2 separate regions of the Homo sapiens genome follow, and region 1 is linked to region 2. The links come from fine-mapping of genetic effects on gene expression. Tissue or cell type: whole blood. Region 2 holds a variant in brackets; the other region holds the start of a gene. All regions are shown on one strand. Distances are from middle to middle.

Region 1 (2,908 bases), 28 kb before region 2:
AGAGTGCGTGTGCTAACTAGATGTGAAGGCAACCGCAGAAGTCATAGCTCTCTGCAAGGACAAGTGGGACGGAACTTGCAAATAGCCGCCACAAACGCAAATGTCACCAACCTGCTTTAGACAGGAGTGGGAGGGGTCCTCTGGCTTCCTTTATCTCTAGAGTAAAATTTTTCAGCCATTTCAGTCTTGGTTGACTTATTTTGGCAAATAAACAAGTATGCCCCCCTCCACCGCCCATCCCCCAAGCCTGAGAGCACTTCAAGAGTTTGTAAAATAAAAAGCAACAGGAAACCAGAAACGCAGCAACGTCTGCATCGTGGGTCCCCGGCACAAACACAAGTACAAAACGCACACCCGCGCCCTTATTTCATTTCTAACGCCTTCCCAGGATAGGCATCATCTGGAAGAGTTACAAGCGTGGGAGGCGCAGGAAGGGAGCCCCAGGAAGTTTCTGTCTGTCGGGCGCCGGTATTTAATGAGGGGGTGTGCACCTATTTATACGTGGGCAGCGCTCGGGCAAACAAGTCTGGCGACATACGAGAAGCTTTTCACCCAGCAAATAATAGGAGACTGTGCAGCCCTGGGAAACCGCTCACGAGAGAAGGAAGCTGGGAGTTTAAGGAATTTCCTTTAAGGAAATTGCCCGTGGGGGCATCGGTTTCAGGGGGTAGGAGACGGGGGCAGGAGCCGGCAAGGAGCGGCACGGAAGGTCGGGGACCCCAGTCGGGCCGCGCCGGCCCCGGGAGCACCTGGATCCCCAGCCCCCTCGACCCCCGGCGCGCTGGGCTCGCGCACACCCAACCCCGGCCCCATCTCCGTCCCCCGCCGCCTCAGCTCCGGCGCTCCCGGCCCGCGCACACCCTGACCCCGGCCCCCTCAGCCCCGGCGCCTCTGGGCCCGAGCGCCCGGCGGGAGCGGGGAGCGCGGCTTCCGGTTCACCTGCGCGCCGGTCGGCTCGGGCCGCGGAGGCCGGCGGGGGGCGGCAGCGGAGCTCTCGGAGAGCCCGGGCGGACACAGGCCCTGCCCCCGCGCCGTCCCCCGCCCCTGGCCGGCGCCTCCCGGGCCCCAGCCGTTCGCGCGTGAGGGGTCAGGGACGCCGCTTGCCCGCCCGCCCGCCGCCGCCCGCCGCCCGCCGCCCGCCGCCCGCTCGCCTGGGTCTTGTCGAACTGCTCGCGCTCGGCCTCCAGGCTGTGGCCCGGCCTGCGGCTCAGCACCCGCGCCGGCACGTTCTTGATGCTGTTCATCCTGCCGCCGCCGCCCGCTTTTGTCCGGCTCCGTCCGCGCGACTCACAGCCTCACGGTCCGGCAGCCCCAGCCTAGGCACCGCGAGGCCACCGCGCCGCGCCCGGGCCCGCCCGCCGGGGAGGAGCCCGCCTCGCCCCGCCCCCAACTCCAGGGCACGCCCCTCCCCCGCACACCTCCAAACCCGCCCCCCGCGCCCGCAAACGCCTCGCCCGCCCCCAACTCCAGGGCGCGCCCCTCCACCCGCACACCTCCAACCCCACCCCCCGCGATCTCGGGACACGCGCCTCTCCCCGCACATCCCCAACCCCCCATCCCGCGGCGACCCCGGCACACGCCCCGCCCCCCGCACACCTCCAACCCCCACCTCACTCACAAGGTTGGGGCACAGGCCAAACGCCCCCCCAGCTCCTCCCCACCTCTAATCCCCTCCCTAAACCCGGAGGGGAGGGTAGGGGAAGGGGGAGGGGGAACCCCTCCCTCCTCCTTCCACCCAGGGTAGGGACCCCAGCCAATTCCCTCTCCCCACCCCTCCTCCGAACTCACTAAGTCTTGTCTGCACCAGGGCAAGATCTGGTTAATTGGAGAAAATCTGGCCTCCATGAGTCTGGTCGGTGGCAGCACAGATAGACGCTTTTTTTCCTTTTTGGTCTTAATGTATGTGTCAAAAGGCACACAATGACACTCTCCCCTCTTTGTGCAATTCTGACATAGCTGCAGCTGTTATCCATGCGGGGATGCAGGATGCATTTCCAGAGACGCCGCCGGCTCCGCAACCGGACACCTCGCCAGCTCCAGGGACAATGGGGGCTGAGGCCGGGCGCTGTTAGGCTGGCACAGAAGGCAGGCGGATCTGAACAGCAAAGTACACCGAGGAGATGCCGCCAGGGGTGGCGTGAGGCTTTTTAAAAACATTATTATTGGCTTTCCCTTAAAATTACTGGTCACAAGACTGAAGTAAAAAAATAAATAAAAGCCCAGAGTCCTCTCTAAGCGTAGCTCTCAGATGGGTATTGTGTTTCTGCTGTTTCCCTTTCCTATCGGAATGCAGATGTGGAATCATGCATAAAGGTCCCTTGCTTTTGAAGGGAGAGGCACCGCCTGCCTGTAAGGAGGAAAATGACGCCCACGTAATCCTGACCCTTGTCTCCCTAGTGAGACTGTAACCTGTCTGAGGTCAGAGACCCTTTCCTTTCCTTTCCTTTCCTTTCCTTTCCCTTTCCCTTTCCTTTCCTTCCTCCTTCTTTTCTTTCTTTTCTCTCTTTCTCTCTCTTCTTTCTTTCTCTTTCTTTCTTTCTTTTCTTTTCTTCTCTTTCTTTCTTTTCTTTTTTTTTAACCGAGCTTCACTCTTGTTGCCTAGGCTGGAGTGCAATGGCACAATCTCACCTCACCGCAACCTCCGCCTCCTGGGTTCAAGCAATTCTCCTGCCTCAGCCTCCCAAATAGCTGGAATTACAGGCATGTGCCACCACGCCTGGCTAATTTTGTATTTTTAGTAGAGACAGAGTTTCTCCGTGTTGGTCAGGCTGGTCTCGAACTCCCGACCTCAGGTGATCCGCCCGCCTCGGCCTCCCAAAGTGTTGGGATTACAGGCGTGAGCCACCACACCCCGCCAGGGACCCTTTTCTTTAACTGATTCCTCACCCTCCAGCCCAAGAGCTAGAGC
Region 2 (2,908 bases):
GTGTCTATACAAAGACTTATGATACATGAATATGCAAGCAGCTTTATTTGTATTATCTAGCACACCAGAAACAACCCAAATGTCCACTGACAAATGAATGGCTAAATCACTGTGGTAATAGGTTGGTGCAAAAGTAATTGCGGTTTTTGCCATTACTTTTTTTTTGAGATTGAATCTCGCTCTGTCACCCAGGCTGGAGTCCAGTAGCACGATCTTGGTTCACTGCAACCCCTGCCTCCCGGGTTTAAGCAATTCTTCTGCCTCAGCATCCTGAGTAGCTGGGATTACAGGCACACACCAGCACACCAGGCTCATTTTTGTATTTTTAGTAGACAGGGGATTTCACCATGCTGGCCAGGCTGGTCTCGAACGCCTGACCTCAAGTGATCCGCCTGCCTCGGCCTCCCAAAGTGTTGGGATTACTTTTAATGGCCTACCATTACTTTTAATGACAAAGACCATACTTACTTTTGCATCAACCTAATATATCCACACAATAGGATACTTGTCAGCAACAAAAAGGAATTATTTATATACACAGTCACATAAGTTAATCTCAAAATAATTACACTGAGTGAAAGAAACAAGAGGGACACAAAAGTTTGAATGCATTTATATAAAATTCTAGAAAAGGCAAACTAATCTGGGTTACAGAAGACAGATTAGTGAGTGATTGTCTGGGAATAGGGAGGGACGCACAGGGCAGAGGAAGAATTCCAAAGGGGTTTGGGTGTAATGAATGTGTCACTATTAGTCTGTCACATACAGACTAATGTGTGGTAAATGGGATTTTATTATACAAGAAAATGTCTGGCCAGGTACAGTGCCTTGTGCCTGTAATCCCATTAGTGGGATGAAGATTTCAATTTGCCACCCTGGTATCTTGGTAAATCATAGATGTCAGATGTTTACCTTTTTTTTTTTTTTTTTTTGAGACAGAGTCTCACTCTGTTGCCAGGCTGGAGTGCAATGGTGCAATCTCGGCTCACTGCAAACTCTGCCTCCTGGTTTCAAGCGATTCTCCCGCCTCAGCCTCCCAAGTAGCTGAGATTACAGGCACCCGCCACTACACCTGGCTAATTTTTTTATTTTAGTAGAGATGGGGTTTCACCATGTTGGTCAGGCTGGTCTCGAACTCCTGACCTCAGGTTATCTGCCCACCCCGGCCTTCCAAAGTGCTGGGATTACAGGCGTGAGCCACTGCGCCTGGCGATGTTTTCCTCTTTTATGTTTTTAAAATTTTATTGAAACAAAAAATAGAGGCAG[G/A]GTCTTGCTATGTTGCCCATGCTGATCCTGAATTCCTGGGCTTAAGCAATTCTTCCACTTTGGCCCCCAAGAGTGTTGGAATTACAGGCACGAGGCACTGTACCTTGCCACACATTTTCTCATATAATGAAATCCCATTTACCACACATTAGTCTGTATGCATGTCTCTGCAGATAGAGAAATCTGTAAGCAAGCCCACCAACGTGTCACCTGGGTCTCTCTAGACACTGCCAGGGGTTGTGTATTTGGAGGAAGGGGCAGCTGAGACCAAGCAGTTAGGTGATATCTATATTTCTGTATTGTTCTTGTGGTTTGTTTTTCTTTTTCTTTTTTCTTTCTTTTTTTTTTTACAACCAACATATATCAAGTTGCCAAAAAAAAAAAAAATACAATTTTTCTCGAAAGAAAAAAATAGTCCCAGCACGGTGATTCACACTTATAATCCCAGCACACTTTGGGAGGCCAAGGCAAGAAGATCACTTGAGCCCAAGTGTTCAAGACCAGACTGGGCAACAAATTGAGACCCTGTCTCTACAAAAAAATGAGAAAATTAGCTGGGCGTGGTGGCATGTGCCTGTAGTTGCAGCTACTTGGAAGGCTGAGGCAGGAGGATCACTTGAGCCCAGTAGGTTGAGGCTGCAGTGAGCCACGATTGCACCACTGCACTACAGCCTGGGTGACTGAGTATCCTGTCTCAAAGAAACAGAACAAAACACAAAATAATAAAATAAATAAAAGGATTGCCTTAAAAGCATCTTAAAATCCTAGAATTAAAAAAAAAAAAAAAAAAACGGAGGAATAGCCAAAATAAGCAAGCTAACAGTGGTTGCTAGAGAAGCATTAAAAGCTGGTGAGAGGCCTGGCTTGAGTAAGCTGGGGATGTCTAAGCAAAATACGAACCTTTTCATTGAATGCTGGTGCATCTTTGTAGATTAACAAACTCGTAGGTGAGTTCTTTTTATTGGAAGAGGACTCCGTCTCATCTTCTCTCAAGGCAGATTTTGAAGAACCCAAAGAGTGGGAATCTTGGATGGCAATTAGCTCACTAAGAATAAGAAAACCCAACAAAAACAAATATCTTAAAACAATATCATACATAGATCACTCTTATACTCAAAAGTATCTTAAAAGGACAAATAAGTGTTTTTGTTATTGAAGCAGGTCAAGTTTGAGTAGAACATTATAGATTGGAATAGAATATTATAAGTTAATGCATACCTTTTGCAAATAAGAATTAAAATAAGGCTGGGCATGGTAGCTCATGCCTATAATCCCAGCACTTTGGGAGGCTGATCTGGGTGGATCACGAGGTCAGGAGATCAGGACTGTCCTGGCCAACATGGTGAAACCCCATCTCTACTAAAAACACAAAAATTAGCTGGATGTGGCCGGGAGCGGTGGCTCACACCTGTAATCCCAGCACTTTGGGAGGCAGAGGCAGGCGGATCAGGAGGTCAGGAAATCGAGACCATCCTAACACGGTGAAACCCCGTCTCTACTAAAAATACAAAAAATTAGCTAGGTGTGGTGGCGGGTGCCTGTAGTCCCAGCTACTCGGAAGGCTGAGGCAGGAGAATGGCGTGAACCCGGGAGGCAGAGCTTGCAGGGAGCTGAGATCGCGCCACTGCACTCCAGCCTGGGC

The links. PIP is the estimated chance that this variant, and not a neighbour inherited with it, causes the effect.
Region 1: HIP1R starts here. The variant in region 2 is the best candidate, but not a certain one, in a credible set for the expression of HIP1R in whole blood (INTERVAL, PIP 0.58).

Annotation. Positions count from the first base shown.
Region 1 is chr12:122,833,887-122,836,794 of GRCh38, reverse strand. HIP1R (huntingtin interacting protein 1 related) reads right to left here and starts at 1,338. Exons shown (of 32, transcript NM_003959.3): 1 at 1,152-1,338. The coding sequence starts at 1,244. LOC124903040 (a long non-coding RNA gene) reads left to right here and starts at 1,562. Exons shown (of 2, transcript XR_007063501.1): 1 at 1,562-1,621; 2 at 1,957-2,240. RefSeq lists silencers at 827-1,026, 1,197-1,436 and an enhancer at 1,687-1,736.
Region 2 is chr12:122,805,554-122,808,461 of GRCh38, reverse strand. CCDC62 (coiled-coil domain containing 62) reads right to left here. Exons shown (of 13, transcript NM_201435.5): 10 at 2,167-2,311. Among named protein-coding and RNA genes, the nearest start is that of HIP1R, 28 kb to the left of the region's middle. The variant G/A (reference allele first, on the strand shown) is at 1,267.